Homo sapiens: one gene and its partners. The gene in region 3 interacts genetically with the main gene of each other region. Each region holds a gene or a part of one and is shown on either strand. Other genes may lie near its edges.

Region 1 (7,721 bases), on a different chromosome or scaffold from region 3:
AAAATATAGTCATTGAATTTACAAAACGAGCAGGTTTAACAGCAGTCTGGACATAGGGAAAGTAAGAATTACTGGATTAATGATTAAGAAATCACCCAGAAAGCAATACAGAAGGAGCAAGAGTTGGAAACGATGAGTTAATGATAGTTGAGGAGGTCCAGCAAACATCTAATGGCAGAAAGAAATAATAGAGAATGTGAAAGACATTTTCAAGCACTCATCCCACTGTCTTCTGATTTTTGTTGTTCTTGAAGTCAACTGTTAGTTTAACTTTGCTCCTTTGTAGGTTGTCTGTTTTTTCTCTCTGGTGACTTTATTATCATGTACAGAGATATGGATTTATTTGGTTTATCCTCCTTAAGTATTATACTTCTTGAACCTATGAATTCATGCCTATTCTTAATAATTAACTCAATTATTGCCTCTTTCCCATTCTCTATTATTTCTTTCTGCCATCAGATGTTTGCTGGACCTCCTCAACTATCATTAAGTCATCGTTTCTAACTCTGCTCCTTCTGTATTGCTTTCTGGGTGATTTCTTAATCATTAATTAACCCATTAATTCTTACTTTACCTATGTCTAGACTGCTATTAAACTTGCCCATTTTGCAAGTTCAACGAACTTTTGTGACTATTAAAACCCAAGTTCCCTGGTTCTCAAAGCTGGCAATCATTAGTACTGCTGCCCTAGAACCGTATCAGTTCATAGGCTTACTCTTCTGTTTGTAGTTTTGATTCCTTTTGTGAATCTTTATTTTTTTGTGATTTCTAAAATTATTTTATCAGCACTTTGAGGAGTTTTATGGTGGGAAGTTACACGCTGCTGTGCCAAAAGTCAACCACAATAAACTTTTAAATTTCATTTGAGCTCTGATCATAGCTGAGAAAAGGCTCCATTCTACTCAACACTTGACAAAAGCAACACTTCATTTGAAAAATGTTCAACTTGCCTTGTCTCTGATTTACAGGCTTCCATATTATCAGGGCAAAGATTCCAAAGCCTTGTTAACTCCTCACTACAAAATAGACACAGAAATAAATACATTTTTTATGGACACCATCCTCATGTGCCTTGAAACTGAACAGAAAAACAATACAATGTAAACAGTGGATTTGGGGATGTTGACAGTATGAGTTTTACTTTTCTCAATAATTTTTGGTATTTAAAATACCTAAAATTATTCTCTATATGAGCATATAATCATTAATCATGACTAATGATAATGATATAATCTTTAGTTTTTTCTAAAAATATTCCAGCACAATATAAAGCAATGAATAGTTAACTGGAAGGTAAGAGAACTCAAGGATTATGGTACCTTGCAACAACTGGAATCTAAACAATTCTACTGTCTGAAACGGAAAAAATGGCACAGCCTAGAGACACAGATTTTGGAAGCTGGAGACAAAATGAAGGTTTATCTGGTGCATGAACCCACACAATGGGCAGTATAGACAGTGCGGTTTGCTTTGGCTATCTATGTGTGTACCAAACACAATCTCATACTATATTTTGGATGGAGAGTTCTTAAAGTAACATCTTCAAAATATAAAAATAACTAAGAACATCCCACATGAAGACAAATTCACCTACTTTCCCATCAGAATTTTTTTGGTGGGTCCTTTCCCTAGGAAGTCCTCGGGTGCTGTTCTCTTCCGAATTATTCTCGTAGGTTTGGTATCTGATGTTCTGTCGTGAACAAAACATACACTATTTTTTGAATTACAAATGGATAACAGAAATAGAAGAATGTTTAACGTAAAAGAAAATTTAGTTATTGTTTTCCTCTTAAAAAAGATGAAAACTGGCTGGGCATGGTGGCTCATGCCTGTAATCCCAGCACTTTGGGAGGCTGAGGTAGGTGGATCACCTGAGGTCAGGAGTTTGAGACCAGCCTGGCCAACATGGTGAAAGCCTGTCTCTACTAAAAATACAAAAATTAGCCAGGCATGGTGGTAGGCGCCTGTAATCCCAGCAACTCAGGAGGCTGAGGCATGAGAATCGCTTGAACCCAAGAGGCGGAGGCTGCGGTGAGCCAAGATCATGCCACTGCACTCCAGCCTGGGTGACAGAGTGAGACTCCCTCTCAAAAAAAAAAAAAAAATGAAAACTTCATATTATGATAGAACAATTATCAGATATAAGATAAAAATGCCACATTATATGGCAAATTACACGGAGTAGATATACAGTATTCTTCTCAATAATAAGATGTTTGTTCCAGGAATTTAATGACAAGAAATTTATGAGGTTTAAAAAATACAGAGGTAAATCAAAGTGGTTGTACTCTTACAAAGTTCAACTTACATTTTTTATGTGAAATATATACATGTATTTTTACATGCTATAATCATATCGGAGCACATTTTCAAAAGCCTTTCTCGTCGTTCTTGTGATGAGTATGTATTTACCTTTCTTTCAGTATGTATTTACCTTTCTTTCACAAAACTTGGGCAACCTTCATTTTTCCACGAGTTCCAGTTTTCTTCAGTGTTTAATATATGCTGGGAAAAACAAAGCGATTACATTTTGGTTAGTGGAATCCTCTGAAGTTCTATTTCGTGCTAAGAAGAGGATGTAAGCATAAAAAACACATACCTCTACCATCTTTGAAAATCTTTCTCCATCGGGGGGGTTTTCAGATAGTAGCTGTGATTAGAAAGAATATACTAAGCTTTCAACAACTTTCTGCATCATAGGAGTGGTTTGTAGGCAGAGAACCAAGGAGTGTTTGTGGTCTTGTACCTGAGCTTAACTTTATCCTTATTTTCCTATTTGGGGCTGAAACAAAGAAAATCCTAAATTTCCATTTTTTCAATCATGGGTTTGTTGCGTGTTGAACTTACTTGATAAACTGATTTTGTAGTATCTTCAATCCAAAGTGATTGCTCATCAGTTAAAACATAGTTTGAACTAGGGAACAAAGCAATGAAAGCATGCTTGAGTTACAGCAATGCATATGCAACTTTAAGGTTTAAAAAACACAAGGCATGTAACATGTAACTATACTGTGGATAGTGTCAAAAATTACCAAGACAAGAATAATCACAAATGAGAGGATTATAAGAGAAAATTCTTGCACTTCTTCCTCAAGAGGGTTGGTACTGAAGACATAAAAGCATATGCAGGGAATAAAACATTCAATTAATCAATCAGATTCACTATGAACAGAGCAATATATGTTTCCTAAAATAAGCTGAGTGTGAAACGAAAACTTCTGATTTGATATTAAGATATGTGTATACATGATGCACATTCAGTATGGCATGCTACATTAAGATTCATTCAAAATACAACGAATAAAACACCCAAACCCTAGAAAAGGCAACAGGCAAACCCAAATTGTTAATAGCTGCCACTAACTGAGCTCTCATAATGCACTAGGTGATTTAAAGACATCCAATAAATATTGATGGCTAGGATCTGAACACTTTACATACATTATTCATTGAATTCTCGGAACAAGTACATGTACATATTAAACAGAGACTACCGTGTCTCACTGATTTGCCCAAGGCCATAAAGATTTAATTCAAACCCACGTCTCACTTCAAAGTCCCTCATCTTCCTACTATGCTATACCAAACCTCCAAAATAGATAGAAGGATAAGAAATAACATTTTTTGAGTGTTTACCATGTGCTACTACCTTAAAATTACAAGTCTGAAAGAGCTGCACTGCAGCCAGCAAATGACGAGCCTGGGATTCAAACCCAGCAGGTAGTGAAGTCATTATACAACTAATACGGCATTGCTCAGTGTCCTTAACACAAATACCGTTAAGTAACAGTGGGCTCCACCTTCAGTTATGGACAGGATAGGAGGAAATGGATGGAAGTATTTAGATAGACAGTAGAGAGCCTAATGAGGTTTTGTGAAACCCCAAATAAATGAACTCCTTTTTGCTTAAAAATTTTCTTTGCATCTTTTAGCTTGAATGTCCTGCAGAGCTCCACACCTTGTGAGATATGTATTACTGGCTTAGTCTGCAAATCAGCTTTGGAGGAGGTCTGAGGGAGGTGAGAAGGGAATGACGGAATTTTGGAGCAGAGACCTCCACCTGCTAATAAAGACGACAACTCCTGGCAAGCCCTGGAGTTGGGCAGGAAAAACTCACACTGACAGATATATTTAACATCTTTTCCTTAAATATCCTAATATCGAAAAGCCTTCAATGTATCAGCTGCAATACATGTGTTTTAGGGATACAGCCTTAACATGAAATGGACACATACATAAGAAAAATCGTAAGCAAGTCCTTTTTTTTCTTGGCTACTGTTTACAAATTGTTTACTACCCATATTATCTTACCTTTTGAATTTGACCTGCCCCTTGAGATATTGGAATAAAATGAGATACTGCAACAGGATGTGTCGACGAAAGTTACTGTCACTCAGTTGTAAATCCATCAGCTACTCAAGAAACAAGCAAACACATACGAAAACAACACATTAAAATCAAGTTTTTCCTAAAGGTACAAAATGTGCTAATATAGAAATGGAAGATTCCAATTCAATTTAAAAGCCATTTGTTGAGAGTTCACTGCATGTGAGGCATTACCGCACAAGCCCAAAGACAGCCCAGTCAAGGTTTCACTTAGATTTCTTGACTGTTTTATGCCATGACACATTCTTGCTGGTGGATAACAATGATCTATCTATGGTCCAGACATGAGGATAAAATAAAGCAGAAATAGAAAAAAGTAAGCTGGGCATGGTGGCACAAAGCCTATTATAGTCCCAGCTACTCAGGAAGCTGAGAAGGAGGATCACTTGAGCTCAGGAGTTCGAGATCAGTCTGAGCAACATAGCAAGACTCTAAATTTAAAAAAAAAATTTTTTTTTAAAGTAAAACTGAGGCTACTACTTTCTCACATATGAAGAAATAATGGCTAAAGAAGATACGGATAACAGCACAATATCAACGGGGACCACTCATTTTTGTAGCCCTATAAAGTGCCTGCAACAGAGGTATTACTTGACAATAAACAAGAAATTAGAGGTGAAGATCATCTCTGATTAGATGGGCTTTTTTTTTTAGCTTTTAGTGAAAATTGCATCATACTTGTATTATCACAGAATCTGGATTAGAAAGGACTTGAAGGTCACTCATGAGGAAGTTCTTCAACGACCCTGCCATCCAGCTGTAAGAATAACCTGCGGCGATGAAGGAAGGTCATTCTGATTATGTGCATGGAACACTGAAGGAAGGCTGAAGTCTGTATCCACAAACTCATGCTAGTTCTGCCTTCAAAAACTACAGTAACAAAGGAAAGCCACGTTCTTCTAAATGAATCGCCAGTAAGGCAGCTGGAAGCGTCGAAGATTGGTTTTGGTTCAATGTCCCAAGTGCTGGTGGCTCTGCTTTACGTGGTTGGTACCATTTACTAATGCTACCTAACACGCACAAGCCTCCCTATTCACTAGCAACCCCTTCCACACTGTGGCTCCAGGTCTTAAAAAAAAAAATTAATGATCAGCCTTCCAGTCAGGTTTCCCTCACGTTTAAGGATTGAATATATTTGATTGTTATTTATATTAACTCTCCTATCCCAAATTGGAAATGTGAATGGCCGGCCATCAGCCTTCCCTTCCTCCAGCCCCTGGGCAACTTGACTGTCTCCACTCAGGCTGTTAGTTCCTTGCCCTTAACTCCACGGACAGGCCCATCTCTGCTCCAGCTACCCACTACTGTGGCCACAGCTAGACCTGGGGTCACTCACAGCTGCCCCAGATCTGAAGTCTTCAACTCACAATCCTATCTCACCACAACCTCTATCCTTCCCAGGTCTCTCGCTCAGTTGCTTCCAATATACCTAATATTTGGATCTTACCGAGACTTTAAGGCCCTTGACCCGTCTATTCTCTGCCTGTTAGTCCCATCCCATTTTATTATAATCCTATTTTAGTCTAGATAAGGGGTCAGCAAACTTTTTCCTGAAGTGTCAAATAGTAAGTATTTTTATTAATAGGTTATGTGGGCTAAGAGACATATTATGGATATTATGTAGGTATTTAAACATCTAAAATGTAAGGGGGAAAAAAAAACCAAAATCACCAAAAACAACCAACACAGGTGGTGGGCCAGATTTGGCCTATAGGCTATAGTCTGCCAACTCCTGGTCTAGACTTCATGGTTAATCTCTTCGGCCATTTTCTTGCCAACTTCAACACACTTGTCCCATATTTCTTCTGTCATGTCTAGTGAGCAAACAGCAACCTTGAATAAACCAACTGTTAGTCACCTTCTCTATACCAACCCTCAGGATTCCAATCTCAGCTGAAAGTGAGGTGCCTGAGTGAATACCCCAAATTACACAGCTATGCAGAAGGCACCACTGGTATGTTGTCACCACCTTAAACATCTGTTTTTAATCAGCAATCTTTCTTTATTCTTCAAGGCCATTCTCTCTCCTACTCTTCACAGTAATGATTTTCAACCCTTTCCACTTAGCAAAAATACTACTTTACCACCCCTTCTCACTTTCAGTAGATAACTACTTTTGCCTTCAATGAGAAGAAAAATTAAATTGGAAAGCATTTCATTTCTTGGCCCCCAAAATGACAAATCAGCTGCACCTACACCTTTGTTTACTTCATTTCCTTCTGTCACAACTCCTTCACGGCTAAAGGTATTCCATCTGGATTACCTTCCATCTGGAATCCCAATATCCCTAACAATTGAGTTCCATCAACTAACTGCCCTGGTTTCTGTATCTACAACCTATTCTTTCCAAGCTCCTTTCCATAAGCATTAAATAAGCTCCCTCAAAAATCTCCCACATTCTCACCTAACCCTTTAACAGCAAAGCTTCTTAAAATAATTGACTATAGGCACTGTTGCCAATCAGCTCCTCAACCTGCTATCATCTGACCGCCTCATCCACTAATCCATTGAAAGTGTTTTTGTCGGCTGGGTGTGGTGGTTCACGCCTGTAATCCCAGCACTTTGGGAGGCTGAGGCGGGCGGATCACAAGATCAGGAGTTCGAGACCAGCCTGGCCAACATGGTGAAACCCCGTCTCTATTTAAAAAAAAAAAAAATTAGCGGGGCGTGGTGGTGCATGCCCTGTAATTCCAGCTACTCTGGAGGCTGAGGCAGGAGAATAGCTTAAACCTGGGAGGCGGAGGTTGCAATGAGTCCAGACCATGCCACTGCACTCCAGCCTGGGCAGCAGAGCAACAATCGGTCTTGGGGCGGGGGAAGAAAGTGTTTTGTCAAGATCACCAATGACTTATTTGTTGTTAAATCCTGTGAACACTCTTTACTGTCCTCATCCTACTTGATATGCTTGGCTTCCATGAGTGCATGCTTTTCTAGTTTTTCTCTAATCTCACAGGTTACTCTTCAATCTTCTCCTCTTCTCCCTTCATTCTCCCTTAAACATGGGTTTTCTTCGGGATTTCAGTATTTTCTTCTCTTCTGAATCTACACTCTCCCCTTTAGCTCATTTCATACACTCTACAGTTTGAATTACCATTTATAAACTGGTAACTCCTACAACTATACTCTCAACCTAGATCTTGTTCCTAGTCTCCAGCTTTGTACACTAGACAACCTATCACACATCTCTACCTGAATGTTCAACTGACACCTGATCAGATTTCATGAACAAAGTAAAACATCAATTTCCTCCACAAAAGCTGTTCTCCAGCATTGGCTAATTCAATGAGAGGCTCCAACATCCATTTGCCCAAGCAACTCTAGGAAGGCTTCCTGGA
Region 2 (7,763 bases), on a different chromosome or scaffold from region 3:
TGTGTACCTGGGAATTCAGTATACATTAAACCATGCAAAAAATGCTCTGTATTTATATAAATTGGAGTTAGGAATGAAGACCTGTATCCACAAAGTATTGAACACCTTAAGACCTGTAACTCGTTAGCTTGTTATATTTGAAATCTGAATGTTGCTGTGGTGGCTCACGCTTGTAATCCCAGCACTTTGGGAGTCTGAGACTAGCCTGGGCAACATGGCAAAACCTGTCTCTACTAAAAACACAAAAATTAGCTGGGCATGGTGGTGCACGCCTGTAATCCCAGGTACTCTGGAGGCTGAGGGAGGAGAATCACTTGAACCCAGAAGGCGGAGGTTGCAGTAAGCCAAGATTGAACCACTGCACTCCAGCCTGGGTGACAGAGTGAGAATCCGTCTCAGAAAAAAAAAAAAAAAAAGTAAATCCATGGCTTGGTATCAGTATCAATCATGTATTAATAAAGCTAAATTCAGTGTGAAAATGCACCTACGTAGAAAATCCTGTTTCCCAAAATTCTCTGCAGGTTACTTGAAAAACAGAAAAAAAGCATAAACTAGAAAACCCTAAAATCATCTTAAAATAACTAAAGATTAACCACTCATTTACATATTTTTATTTGGAAGTGTTTATATCAGTACAAGGAAACAATTTTGGAGACACTGGATGTCATTAGTTATCATTAGTTTATTATAAAAGAGAAATATGGAAATTATTTACATGACGAAAGATTTCAGAACTTCAGTGGAATGGGCAGCATCATGTTGATGCCATTTCAATAGTGACTTATTTCAGTCTACGTACTTTCCAAGAATGTCACCATCTCTAAATAGGAAATAATCCTGCAAGTGAAAAAAACCATTAGTTAAGACAACTAATTGCAAATATCTGACTTCTTTTTAGAATTATTAAGTTTACACACCTTGTCATCTAGAACTACTTTGGTGCCTCCATATTCTGGGAGAAGAACTTTATCTCCAACTTTCACGCTAACTGGTTGAATCTCTCCACCCTTAAAAAAGGAAGGATGTTTATTAGCAAAGATATCTAGTTCACCCAACATAAACAGTTAACTTTTAAATCACTACAACTAATGAAACATGGTCACTCAAATCCAATTATATTAAAAATATATTTCGTGGCTAAGTGATACGACTCATACTAGAATTACAGATCTTCACTCAAAAATACCACTGTAGTTACACTTTGAAATAATACACAGTGGCTTAAACTAAAACCTGACTCCAACGTAAAAGTTCAAGAAAATATTCTGGAAAAGCTAACTTTAGTTAACTAAAGCTAACTTTATAACTGTTAAATATTAACATAACTTATCAACTATATGAAATAAACCTGCAACAGTAGCCAGCACCCAGAAAATGCCATATACAAATGGTCATATTTTCCTTCTTTCAACATACAAAAATTTAAAGTTTTTTTGGATTTAGAACATACTCTTGTGATTGTTTTGTTCCCTCCAAAGAACAGATTTGGGGAAAGGGACTGCAGCTAAGTGTCCACTCCCCAAAGTCTTCCTATTCCTAACTCCATGACAGCTCCTCAGTAGAGCTTTCCTCCTCAGAAGCAACTAGAACAATGCAGTTAACATTATTTGGCCCCAACGGCGTTTACTGTGTATTTTGGCTGAGATCTTTAGAAGCCCGAGGCCTAAACAATTAACTGAGGAACATCTAAAACAGAGGTGTGCAATCTTTTGGCTTCCCTGGGCCACACTGGAAGAACTGTGTTGGGCCACACATAAAATACACTAACATTAGCAGTAGCTGGTAAGCTTAAAAAAAATTGCAAAAGAAATATCAGGTTTTAAGAAAGTTTAGGGATTTGCGTTAGGCGGCATTCAGAGCTGTCCCAGGCTGCAGATTGGACAAGACTGACCAACCTGTTCCTCTGGTAGGTATACAACCAGGTATACCAACTGGTTAAGATTAGGGCAATTTCAATGTGTTAGGGGTTAAACGAACAGTCCAAGTTTCCTCTCAATTCTTAAATGCCCCCTCATTTTACCTTGAAGCACATCTTTTGTATTTATTTATTTTGTAGACAGGAGGTCTCATTATGTTGCCCAGACTGATTTTGAACTCCTGATTTTGAATCCTGAGCTCAAACGATCCTCCTGCTTTGGCCTCCCAAAATGCAAGGATTACAGGTGTGAGCCACCACGCACAGCCTCTTTTGTCTTATTAAAAATTTAGAATGTAAGGCAAACACTGATCACACTAGGCTACCAAATTGCTATTGAGGGGATTTTTTTTTTTTTTTTTTGAGACAGAATCTCGCCCTGTCCCCCATACTGGAATGCAGGGGCGCCTTGCAACCTCGGCTCCTTGCAACCTCCGCCTCCAGGGTTCAAATGATTCTCCTGCCTCAGCCTCCCCAGTAGCTGGGATTACAGGCGCATGCCACCACACCCGGCTAATTTTTGTATCTTTAGTAGAGACGGGGTTTCACCATGTTGGTCAGGCTGGTCTTGAACTCCTGACCTTGTGATCCGCACACCTCGGCCTCCCAAAGTGCTGAGATTACAGGCGAGAGCCACCGCACCCGGCCTATTGAGGACAATTTTTAATACTCTGAAACTATCACATAAAATAAGCATCATAGCATTGGTCATATAAAATAAGCAACTTTATATTAGTCATTTCCCTTTAAGAAACAGATTAGAACCAAAGCAGTTAATGATCTTGAAAACGACATAAACTCTACTTAATAAGCGACTTTTAATACTCCAGAATTACTTCTTTTCCCTCCACTGCACACTATAAAAAATAGTTCCACTGCAGCTCCCATTTACCTTTCCTTTAGAACCCGATCCAACAGCGACTACTGTTGCTTGCAATACTTTTCCTTGAGATTTTTCTGGAAGCATAATGCCTCCTTTGGTTACAGTTTCAGCAGCACTCCTTTCAACCAATACTCGGTCAAAGAGTGGAAGAAACTTTCTAAACGCTTGTCCTGCCTGTAGGAAGAGAAATGTTTTGAAACAAAAACTAAATGTAATCACATTATCAACAGGCAACGCCACCGTGCTATACATCTCAACACGTTTTGGCTTTGAAAGTTAACACCAAACCTCAGCTTATTCGTTAAGGAAGCGCATTTGAATGTACTAACCAATATTCCAAGTTTAATTCCCGATTCCTTACGTCTGTTAGGGGTCGTTGTCGCTCCTCCGGTGAGCAACCAGACCAGCTTTAAGGTCAACCTTAGTTTATTCCAAGGTCAAATGTTTTCCTTCTTCAGGTTTTTCCAGAAATTTTCAGGAAACGCTGGGTCAAGCTCCCTGCCTGGCACCATGATTTTTACCCAAGATATTACACATCCACAAAGGCCCTGCAGAAGCAGGTGAGACGCTGCGCGTGCGCCCGGGTTCTCGCCCCCCTGCCTTACACACCGGCAGCACACGCGCGTGCAAAGAGCCCTGGGGGAGAAAAGGGTCGGGCGGGCCTTGCCGCTCCAAGGTGCCATCGGGCGCTGGTCACTGAGTGGCCACCAATCCCTCCCGCCCAGCCCAACAAAAGAGGGGCGTCAGGGATCCCCGTACGCCTCAGACAGGCCCGGGCCTGCAGGCCTCGGGGCCACGCGGGACTCACCATTACTCCCTCCGCCTCAGACTCGTACTCTGCTCTAGTGTAGCGCCGCAAAGAGACTCGCAGTCCGGCCCTGGCGACACGTGAAAAAATCACCCAGCGCGCAGGCGCGCTCGCCCCAGCGGTCGCCGCTAGCCCCCTCGCCCCTCCCAGGGAGGGAGGGCGGTCGCCCCGACGCGCACCGCGATTCGCCCCAAGGGCCCTGCGCAGGACGCTGACGCGAAGACTCGGAGGCGGAAGAAAAAAGGAGCTGTTTCTAGGCTTTTCTAGGCGCCCAGCCGAGGTGAAAGAACTACCCCTTCGTCCCCTCCCGGAAATGACGCGATTTGACCCTTGAGCCGTAGGGAGCGCGGCATTTTCTGGAAAGTTCTGGAACCGAGCGAGGCCCGGGAACTAGACTAAGCCGGCCGGAGAGGGCTGAGCGCGCTAGCACACCCTGCGCGGGTAGGGAGGGGCGGGGCTCGCGCGCAGGGTGTGCAGATTGCAGGGCCCGGGCTGACGGGAAGTGGGTGGGAGCTGCCTGCACACGCGGTGCCGCGGGGCGGGAGTAGAGGCGGAGGGAGGGGACACGGGCTCATTGCGGTGTGCGCCCTGCACTCTGTCCCTCACTCGCCGCCGACGACCTGTCTCGCCGAGCGCACGCCTTGCCGCCGCCCCGCAGGTACGCGGCCTTCCCGCACCACCTCCCCCCGGCTCCTGCGACCCCCGAGTGGGCCTTCCTCCTCTGCGGTCCAGCTGGAGGGTGCGGGCGGCGACAACCTGGAGTTCCGCACCGCGCCGCACCGCAGGCCCAGGCCTGCGGGTCCAGGCCTCGCGGGTCCATGCGGGTTCCATCACGTGCGACGCGGATCCTGGACCTCGGCTGGGCGCGGGAGGGACAACTCGTGGGGTTTGAATTTGGGGGATTGTAACCACTTAGGCCCGCTGGTGCAACCTGCGCCTGGCCGACTTCAGGGAACCGGGGAGGGTGGTGTACGTGAGGGAACCGCTTTTTTCCCCCGCAGGCAGCTGGGATACCGCGCCTCCAGTCTTGACCTTGCTGGGGGCGTTCGGAAAGAAGGACACGTGGGCTCGCGCCGAGTGGGCCGGGCCGCCGCCCCCAGCATCGCGGCCTTGCTGGTTGCTCTGATACAGTAGCCTTGGGTGGATCCATGGAGACACTTTGCTGAGCGGCTTTTTGCACCGTCAGGAATACTTTTAACTTCCCTGGTCACTTGGATTTGTAACTTGCCTCTCTCCGGCTGACTTGGTTTCTCAGGGGCCACAGTTGGAGTGGGTCTGCCCACAAGGCCGTTTTCGCGGTGAAAGATTAACTCGTTTTTGGCGGCAGGGATAGGTGGCCGTGGGGAAGGAGCCGCATGTGCTTTGTGCTGGTGCTATAGGTCAGGCGCCGGCCGGGGCGGCCTCTTTAGCTTGCGCTAGTGGCTGATGTTCCGAAGCTGCGGCGCCTTCCGTCATTCAGGCGTAGTGGCTGGCGGAGGTCAGCCAGGCTCAGCATCTCACGTTGCTTGCTCTGTTGCACAGGTGGGCATGTTTGTTCTGCAGCGCACCACGGGTGGTAGTTCTGATGATCTTTTTGCTTCCATCCCCAGAAATGCTTCGGTTACCCACAGTCTTTCGCCAGATGAGACCGGTGTCCAGGGTACTGGCTCCTCATCTCACTCGGGCTTATGCCAAAGATGTAAAATTTGGTGCAGATGCCCGAGCCTTAATGCTTCAAGGTGTAGACCTTTTAGCCGATGCTGTGGCCGTTACAATGGGGCCAAAGGTACCAGTATTTTTATTTTATTGTAATTACGGTATTATTAATAGCATTTTACTCACAAATAGTCGCACTGAACTATTCAACAGTACTTTCATCTCCATTTTTGAGAGAACTCAGTTTACATGTAAGAATTCTGAAGTATTGGTTAGCCTTTTTTTCTTAGACATGATCTTAAAGCTTAAACTGCTTCAGCCAGATTTTCGAAACTATTTTGTTCAATGTGTGATGTAATCAGGTAGTAACTTACAGCTCAAGGTGGATTCTTAAACTCGAGGTAGAATTTCGCTGGCTTAAGTTAAAATTTGGATCCTTTCCCAGTAGTTCATGCCAAGTGTAGAGAGAAGAGTTTAACTTATCTTCCATAATTCCTTAGGTATGTGCTTGTAGATGCTAAATTTTTTTTTGGTTTATTGTAGTAAAATGTACACAACATAAAATTACCATTAAGTGTGCACTTTGGGGACATCAATTACATTTATGTTGTGCAGTCATCACCACCATCCATCTCCAAAACTTTTTATATGGAAAAATTGTAACTTTGTACTCATTAGACAGTAGCTTCCCATTCTCTCCTCCACCCCAAGATGCTAGTTTTACCCATCGGTTTTCTGCTGTTCTCTTGTTCCAAAGCATATTTAAAATAAGTCTCATTTAATAGGGGTAATGTTTTGAGGAGGCCTTTGAAGGTGGTGTGCAGTCAAGTGGTGCTTCATTTCAGTTTGAAGACAGTTCAGATATCAAGTGATCCAACAACTGCCTAAAATACAACATTTGCACACCTCACAAATAGAAAGTAGCAGCTTTAGTTCAAATCCAAAGGATGGCCAATAATTGTGCCATGGTTGAAGTTTTATGTTGCGTGAACCTGGAAGAGCACGCTACTTGCCTTGATGGTTAATATTTTAGTTAAACGGATTTTAAAACAAGTCACATTACTTTAAAAGATAACAGGCACTAACTAAAGTATAAGTGATAGGAAGATTGTTTTATTCTTTGTCTTGTGTTCTTGTTCATTTTATAAGATGACAAGTTTTAGTCCCTAGGATTTTAATCTCCTAAATTACCTAGTTCAAAATTATGCTCTTGGCAGAGAATCAGGTCATTTTGTCTGTAGACAAAGAATGTCGATAAACTTGCCCTTGAGGTTCATGCTGCAAGACTGATAAAAATGACACAACTTACGTTGAGACTTTGAAGTAGTTGCTTTATTATGAAGACTGCTCATTTTTAAAAATGTAAATCATCCTTAGGGTATGTCTGATCCTGTTACATTTTTTTCTTCTAGGGAAGAACAGTGATTATTGAGCAGAGTTGGGGAAGTCCCAAAGTAACAAAAGATGGTGTGACTGTTGCAAAGTCAATTGACTTAAAAGATAAATACAAAAACATTGGAGCTAAACTTGTTCAAGATGTTGCCAATAACACAAATGAAGAAGCTGGGGATGGCACTACCACTGCTACTGTACTGGCACGCTCTATAGCCAAGGAAGGCTTCGAGAAGATTAGCAAAGGTGCTAATCCAGTGGAAATCAGGAGAGGTAGGAATGTCTGTTGTCACCACAGTGTTCTAAACTTCAGTGTGCTTTAAGGCATTGATTCCTTGGACCTAAGGAAAGTGTTAACTTGAGGAAATTAATCCTTCTCTCATTCCTCCTCTTGGCCTGGAGAAATCTTAAACTGGGTTTTCCTTTAGCAAGCTTGGCTGTATGGTGGGTAGGTACTGTTAGGTAATTTTGATATTTTACTTAGTTGGTTTCTTTTGTTTTTAGAGACAGGGTCTTGCTCTGTAGCCCAGGCTGGACTGCACTGGAACTCCTGGGCTCAAGCAATCCTCCTGCCTCAGCCTCCAAGTAGCTGGGACTACTACAGGCACTCACCACCATTCCTGGCTAATTTTTAGTTTAGTTTTGTAGAAAGTAAGACTAAATACACTGGATCATTCAGAATGTCAGAAAGTAATGTTTTCCTCAGTTTATTTTTTCTTAATAGCACACACCATGTTATTGGTTTGTGTTTTGTTAGTGCTTGTAACTAGAGTGCAACTTAATTAACAATTTGCTCCTCCTCATGAGGTTCATGGCAGTATAGACTTAAATTCTAGTCCCATGTTTGTCATTTATTAGCTGTGTGCTAAGACTTGGTTTTCCTATCAGCAGAATTGCTATGTATATCTAGGGTATGTTAGGGTTCAAACCAGGAACCCTCTTGTAAGTGAAGGTGGGGGGAGCTATTGGTAATTTTTTGTCAGAATTGGCATACTAATTTATTACTACATTACTAATGTATCATTACCTCATCTATTTCAGTGTTTATGGGCCAAGTGAATATACTTCACTAAAAGCAGTTTTACTGTAAATCACTAACAAGTATTAATTAAGGTTATGAAGAGGACTTA
Region 3 (7,721 bases):
CTCTTAGTGCTTTATAGAATAGTAGTATAATGAACCTCATGTGTGTACCAACCAGCTCTTTCATATCTTAACATTTAGCAACATTTGATTTAGCTCTTTCTTTTTTCCAAGATAGAAAAGTTAATATTGTTGAAGACTCCTGCATTCTTTTCCCTAGTCTTATTTTCTTCCCTCCCATAAATGTGTTAAAATCTCTGTGTGTATTGTTTTGGTTGTATTTTTACATAAAACTTTACATATTATATAAAATTTAATTGAAGGTAAAATTTATTAAATTATTCTTAATATATATTGTAATTTAAAAATTAACAGCTTCATTGTCTTGATAAAATTTATGGTATCTTAAACATGTGCTTGTTTTTCTAAGAGAACATTGAAACATAGATTTTAAAACAAATTGTTGAAAGATTAAAAAATCTGCCTTTGCACACTGTTACATTGAAAGTGGGGCATTTGTCGTGAACATTCATTTCAAATATGTAGTATCTTCAGAATATTTGAGAAGGATTTGTATTATATAATTGAAAAATCTGTTAAATTGTATTTATGTTAACTGCTTAATTCTAATAAAATTTCCATTCATTTTTTAGTATCTGCATATATTTACATCAAATGGATTCATTCACTTATTTAAGAGGCAGTACTAATTACCTATAGCGTTCAAGACTGTTAGGTAGAGGGTGTGTAGTGGTGAGTACAACAGGCGTGAGCCCTACCAACACGGAGTTTAAAGCCTAGTAGAGGATATAGACTTAAACAATTTCACAAGTAAATACATAATTACAAATTATAATACATGCTATGAAGGAAACATAGGAGGTACCAGAGAAGGAAGAGTGCTTTGCATTTTTATTTTTAAGACCGAAGAGTGCTATTGGAGGACTTTGAGCAAGTGAATGACATGATCTAACCTACCTTCGTTCATTCATTCATTCATTCATTTTCTTCCTTCCTGGCTCAAGCAGTCCTCCCACCTGAGCTCCCCAAATAGCTGGGACTACAGGTACACACTACCACACCTAATTTTTTTTTGTATTTTTTGTATTTTTGATGGGATTTTACCATGTTGGCCAGGCTGGTCTTGAACTCTTGACCTCAGGTGATCCACCTGTCTCGGCCTCCCAAGGTGTTGGGATTATAGGTGCCTAGCCCATGGTGCCTAGCCCTAACCTACATTTATAAACTATCACTTGCTGCTGTGTGGAGACTATATTGTGAGATTAACAGCAGGGATACCTGCTAGGAAGCAATTGCTGCAGATTGCCTGAGACAAAATAGTTATCATGGACTAGGGGGATGGTGGTGGTGGTGGTGGTAGGTGGTTGGATGTAGGATATATTTTGAAGATAGGTAAATGGTGCAAGATTATGGGTCAGTTTTAAATGCTTAAGTAAATTTTCTTTGTAAGACATTTTAGGATGCCATGTTAAGAATCTCTTTATAACTGTCATTTAAAAAAAAACCACATATTTTCTTAGCATAATTTCCCATAGTAACATTACTATGTCAAAGGCTATGAACATTTGAATGACTTTAGATAAATACTGTAATTGCTTTCCAAAAATATTGTGCTTATTATGTCACCAGAAATGTTTGAATTCTGTCTACAATTCAGTCTTGCCAGTATAGTACATTTCATTTAGAAAAATTTTTTACTATGTAGATGGAAAAAATAATATTTTAGCTGGGAGTGGGGGGACTATGGGGAATAACTTTCCTTCATTTAATATTTTATTGTGAGTTAGTTTAAGTTACTTTATTTTATCGTAGTTTCCTAAGGCTACAAATTAGTAACCTTGGTAACTTATGTACCTAATTTAAAAGTTTACTTTTTTGAAAGGCTGGAAATACTAATTAAAAACGTAACACCTTCATCCTTGTCTTTGCTCCATTATTAACTAGTTTCATTACAGAATCTCTGTGTTTTAAAATCAGATGGGTTTTCATAACCAGTACTTTCTCAGAGTGGTAAATTTAAAAAAATATATAAAGAGAATAAATAATATTTGTTGAGAATACTTCAAATAATGTGAAGAGTTATTAACTTACAGCAGGAGTTGGCAAACTTTTCTATAAAGGGCCATATGGGTCTTTGTCACAAAGTCTTGGGTTTTTGTTTTTGTTTTTTTAAACAGCTATTTAACTATTCCTAGCTAATGGGCAATACAAAAACAGTGGGCAAGATTTGGCCTGTGGGCAGTAGCTTGCTGAAACCTTATTTAGACTCTAAATTTTTTGAAAGAGTCTACATTGATGCATATTTTTTTTTCTTCCTCCAAATACAGTTGACCCTTGAACAACATGCGTTTGAGTGACCATGGGTCCACTTGTGATACACGTTTTTTTCCCAACCAAATGCAGATATGGAGGGCTGACTTTTCATATACCTGGATGTTCCTGGGCCAACTGTAGGACTAGAGGCTGGGGGGGTCTTGGAACCAATGCCGTGTGTATACCAGGGATGACTGTTTCTTATGGCCTGACCTGAAGTTGGAACAGAATCTTTATTAATATATAATTTTTGTTGCGTTTGTTTTCTCTTTATATTTATCCATTCTTTTTAGATCGTATTTCATTTAACACTTTTTCTTCTTTAGTTTTTACCAAGTTGCACTGAAAATAGCTCAGTGACTAATTGCACTTCTAAGAGTGAGGACCCTAGTTAAAATTAACTCTAAAAATACTGAATTTTTAACCTAAACCTTTTATTTCTAATCAACAGTATTATTTATGAGTAGGTTATAGATTACTTTGAAACGGAATGTGTCTCAGAACTTTGCTATCGATATTTTTAAGGTCTGGTAGGGAAAAGATAATAGGAATGAGATTTATCAGTGAATAGGGGACTGCTTTCCCAGTTTCTCGGTCGCACTGGTGTATTCACCATGGAAGCATCTTATGAAATATGTACATAAACTACTAATATCCCACATTACAGGTTGACTATTCTTTATCTGAAATGCTTAGGACCTAGAAGTATTTTTGGATTTTGGTTTTTCAGAGTAGGGATACTCAGCCTACATTGGTAAGTAAAGAATGTGAGGTGACAGGCTGGGCGCGATGGTTGACGCCTGTAATCCCAGCACTTTGGGAGGCCGAGGCGGATCACCTGAGGTCAGGAGTTGAAGACCAGCCTGGCCAATCTGTACTAAAAATACAAAAATTAGCTGGACACAGTGGCACGTGCCAGTAGTCCCAGCTACTCAGGAGGCTGAGGTAGGAGAATCGCTTGAACCTGGGAGGCGGAGGTTGCAGTGACTCGAGATCGTGTCACTGCCCTCCAGCCTAGGCAACAGAGCAAGACTCCATCTCAAAAAAAAAAAAAAAAAAAAAAAAAAAGAATGTGAGGTGGCAGCAATAGGTAGGAAGAGTCTTTGGTCAGCTTTACATGCTCTGTAGCCATGCCTGGGTAATGGGTTGACTCTAAGACTCTGTGCTTTGCTCCCACCTCCTGCTTTTTCATTACTCTTTAGAATGGTTTTTAATTTGTGATCTATAGGAGTTCTTTCAAGTATTTAATAAGAGAATAGGCTAAATTAAGTAAATGTCAACTGAATGCTCAAATCTCTACTAAAGAGCCTCTTATTTAGAAAATAAATATCCATCTTTTTTTTCTGACTGGTGAGATAATTAATTTTTATTACAGATGGTTTGGAAAATACCATATGCTTTAAAAGATAAGCACAAAATTATAGTCTAATATGTAGGTTTTCATACTTTAAAAAATTGAAAACCAAAGAAAAACATTTAACATAGCATCTAGTACAAAGAAAAGAGATAAGCAAGAGATAAATGTCTTTTTTGGGACAGAGTTTTGCTGTTGTTGCCCAGGCTGGAGTGCAATGGCACAATCTCAGCTCACCGTAACCTCCACCTCCCGGGTTCAAGTGATTCTCCTGCCTCAGCCTCCCGAGTAGCTGGGATTACAGTCATGCACCACCAGGCCCAGGTAATTTTGTATGTTTAGTAGAGATGGGGTTTCTCCGTGTTGGTCAGGCTGATCTCAAACTCCCGACCTCAGGTGATCTGCCCACCTTGGCCTCCCAAAGTGCTGGGATTACAGACATGAGCCATCGCACCCGGCCAAGATAAATGTCTTTTAAATTATCTCCATTAAAGACATAACCTTTATAACATTTTGATGTATATATTACCAGTTTTTAAACACATAGTAGATTTGTATAAATACATAAACACATATTATTGTGATCATGCTGCACTTAGACATCTTTATATTCTCCTTATACTGTAAACATTTTGAAATACTTTACTAACAACATTTGTAATGACCATTCTTTCTCTCTTTCTCCCTCTGATAGAATGGTCTACAGAGTAATTCATAAACTAAACATACTTTAGAGGCTGGGCGCAGTGGCTCATGCCTGTAATCCCAGCACTTTGAGAGGCTGAGGCGTGCAGATCACGAGGTCAGGAGTTAGAGACCAGCCTGACTAACATGGTGAAACCCCATCTCTACTAAAAAAACAGTACAAAAATTAGCCGGGCGTGGTGGCGTGCACCTAGAATCCCAGCTACTCAAGAGGCTGAGGCAGGAGAATCACTCGAGCCCAGGAGGCAGAGGTTGTAGTGAGCCGAGATTGCACCACAGCACTCCAGCCTGGGCGACAGAGCGAGACTCCATCTCAAAAAAAAAAAAAAAAGATACATTAATACTATAGCCTACATGTGGAACATTAAGAAAATAATTGCTTTTATGTTTATGCTTTATACCTGTTGTTAGCCCTGCTTCTTATTTCATGATTTCATGGCTTCACATTGTAACATCCCTTTACCATATTTTTTGAGGACTGTTTTGGCAGAATGTGTGAAATCTTGAGCAGAAGTATTACCCAAAAGTCAGAAGAAAATCAGATTTTTATTTCAAGATTCTGTTAAAGTTACCCACTCCCTTCTTTTACTTAATCTTATAGTTGCAGTTCTCTCTCTTTTTAGAAAAGAAAAAAGAGGCCCCTCAGGATTTGCAGATGAAACAATATTGCTCTTTAGAGATATCCATCTGGCTGTTAGATTATTTTTCCACAGTTTTCAGAAGTGGATGAGGCCATTAGAATCTTGAGTATTGCCCATTTCCTTATGTGTGCCTTTGACTATAGATAAAATAGATGCATGACAATTATTTATAAGTTGATTGATTTTTCTTGTCATTTAAATCATCTTGAATAATAGAGTTGGTAGAGCTATCCCATTTTTGAAATTATTTTGTTTTGTCAATAACTTTTTGTTACCAGCATGTACACTTGCATTGTTGACTCTCCATATAATACCTTTAAAAAATTTTTTTTTGTGGTAAAATATGCATAACATAAAGTTTACCATGGTAGTTTTCTTTCATTTGTTTTGTTTTTGTTTTTTTGAGACGGAGCCTTGCTCTGTTGCCAGGCTGGAGTGCAGTGGAGCGATCTTGGCTCACTGCAACCTCCGCCTCCCGGGTTCAAGCAATTCCCCTGCCTCAGCCTCCTGAGTAGCTGGGACTACAGGCGCCCGCCACCACGCCCGGCTAATATTTTGTATTTTAATAGAGATGGGGTTTCACCATGTTGGCCAGGATGTTCTTGATCTCCTGACCTCATGATCCGCCCACCTCGGCCTCCCAAAGTGTTGGGATTGCAAGTGTGAGCCACCGCGCCTAGACCATGGTAGTTAATTTTAAGTGTTCAATTCAGTGACCTTAAGTGTGTTCATAATGTTGTGCAACCATCACCATGTTGTCTAACCATTAGCACTATCTGTTTTGAGAACTTTTTTTTATCATCCCAAATTAGAATTCTGTACCTGTCAAATAGTCCCCAGTAATCCTCCCTCCCCCAGCCCCTGGTAATCTGTAGTCTACTTTTCGTCTTTTTGAATTTGCCTATTTTAGGTTCCTCATATAAGTGGAATTATGTGGTATTTGTCCTTTTGTGTTGGCTTACTTCATTTAGCATAATGTTTTCAAGGTTCATCTGTGTTGTAGCATGTATATACAGGTTGAAGCATCCGTTATCCAAAATGGTTGTGACCAGAAGTGGTTTGGATTTCAGATTTTTTTTTTGGATTTTGGAATATTCATAGATACTTAACTGGTTCAGCATCCCTCGTCCAAAAATCCAAAATCAGATGGAGCTCAGTGGCTCATGCTTGTAATCCCAACACGTTGGGTGGCCAAGGCAGGAGGATCGCTTGAGCCCAGGAGTTCAACCAGCCTGAGCAACACAAGACCCTATCTCTCCAAAAAAAAAAAAAAAAAAAAAAAGATGAAAGAAAAAAAAATCCAAAATCAAATGCTCCAGTGAGCATTTCCTTTTAGCATCATGTCAGGCTCTAAAAGTTACAGGTTTTGGAGCATTTTGGATTTCAGATTTTTGGATTAACCTGCATTAATGCTCAACCTATATGAAATTTTATTCCTTTTTATGGCTGAATAATGTTCCACTGTATGTATATACTACATTTTGTTTATCCATTCATCTGTTAACAGACACTTAAGTTATTTCCACATTTTGGGTATTATAAATAGTGCTGCTGCGAACATTGGTGTACATGTATCTGTTTGAGTCCCTGTTTTTAGTTATTTTGGTTATATACCTAGGAATGGAATTGCTGATCATATGGTAATTCTGTGTTTAACTTTTTGAGGAACTACCACTGTTTTCCACAATGGCATCACCATTTTACATTCCCACCAGCAATGCACAAAGATTTCAGTGTCTGTATCCTTGCTAACACTTATTTTCCATTTTTTGAGTTTTTTTGTTTTGTTTTTTTAATAATAGCCAATCCTAATGGGTATGTGGTAGCATCTCATGGTTTTGATTTTATTTTCCTGACTATTGATGATGTTGAGCATCTTTTCAGGTGCTTAGTGGCCATTTGTCCGTCATCTTTGGAGCAGGAACAATGTCTTTTCAAGTCCTTTGCCCATTTTTAAATTGAATTTTTTGTTGTTGAGTTGTATATAACACCTTTTTTGAAGTAAAAGGTGCACTGTAATAATCCAGACTGTGTTTCTCCCTTCTCAGGATTCCTACAGGAAGCAAGTAGTAATTGATGGAGAAACCTGTCTCTTGGATATTCTCGACACAGCAGGTCAAGAGGAGTACAGTGCAATGAGGGACCAGTACATGAGGACTGGGGAGGGCTTTCTTTGTGTATTTGCCATAAATAATACTAAATCATTTGAAGATATTCACCATTATAGGTGGGTTTAAATTGAATATAATAAGCTGACATTAAGGAGTAATTATAGTTTTTATTTTTTGAGTCTTTGCTAATGCCATGCATATAATATTTAATAAAAATTTTTAAATAATGTTTATGAGGTAGGTAATATCCCTGTTTTATAAATGAAGTTCTTGGGGGATTAGAGCAGTGGAGTAACTTGCTCCAGACTGCATCGGTAGTGGTGGTGCTGGGATTGAAACCTAGGCCTGTTTGACTCCACAGCCTTCTGTACTCTTGACTATTCTACAAAAGCAAGACTTTAAACTTTTTAGATACATCATTAAAAAAGAAAACCATAAAAAAGAATATGAAAAGATGATTTGAGATGGTGTCACTTTAACAGTCTTAAAAGCAATCGTGTGTATAGCATAGAATTGCTTGGATTGGATAAACAGTGGCATTATATATTTTAAAAAATAAAAGTTTTGAAAGATTGAAGAATTTGGGCATTACAGTTCTCTTAAATCTGACAAAGCTGCATAAAACTATTAAAATAATCA

What was found.
Region 1: changes in KRAS (region 3) and THOC1 are lethal when combined (synthetic lethality), as found in Homo sapiens cells (4 studies listed by BioGRID, with this or other methods).
Region 2: changes in KRAS (region 3) and HSPD1 are lethal when combined (synthetic lethality), as found in Homo sapiens cells (3 studies listed by BioGRID, with this or other methods).

Annotation. Positions count from the first base shown.
Region 1 is NC_000018.10:222,490-230,210, forward strand, and holds part of THOC1 (THO complex subunit 1), read right to left. Parts: intron 4,413-7,721; coding exon 4,312-4,412; intron 2,915-4,311; coding exon 2,848-2,914; intron 2,651-2,847; coding exon 2,600-2,650; intron 2,506-2,599; coding exon 2,435-2,505; intron 1,712-2,434; coding exon of another isoform or gene 1,691-1,711; coding exon 1,595-1,690; intron 1,017-1,594; coding exon 951-1,016; intron 1-950. UniProt on the Homo sapiens protein: Component of the THO subcomplex of the TREX complex which is thought to couple mRNA transcription, processing and nuclear export, and which specifically associates with spliced mRNA and not with unspliced pre-mRNA.
Region 2 is NC_000002.12:197,496,283-197,504,045, reverse strand, and holds the start of HSPD1 (60 kDa heat shock protein, mitochondrial), read left to right. Parts: upstream 1-4,205; 5' UTR 4,206-4,264; intron 4,265-5,195; 5' UTR 5,196-5,197; coding exon 5,198-5,371; intron 5,372-6,653; coding exon 6,654-6,906; intron 6,907-7,763. Other genes in the region: HSPE1 (10 kDa heat shock protein, mitochondrial), read right to left, coding at 787-837, 918-1,007, 2,808-2,972, 3,607-3,609; HSPE1-MOB4 protein, read right to left, coding at 2,808-2,972, 3,607-3,609. UniProt on the Homo sapiens protein: Chaperonin implicated in mitochondrial protein import and macromolecular assembly. Together with Hsp10, facilitates the correct folding of imported proteins.
Region 3 is NC_000012.12:25,226,711-25,234,431, reverse strand, and holds part of KRAS (GTPase KRas), read left to right. Parts: intron 1-7,019; coding exon 7,020-7,198; intron 7,199-7,721. UniProt on the Homo sapiens protein: Ras proteins bind GDP/GTP and possess intrinsic GTPase activity. Plays an important role in the regulation of cell proliferation.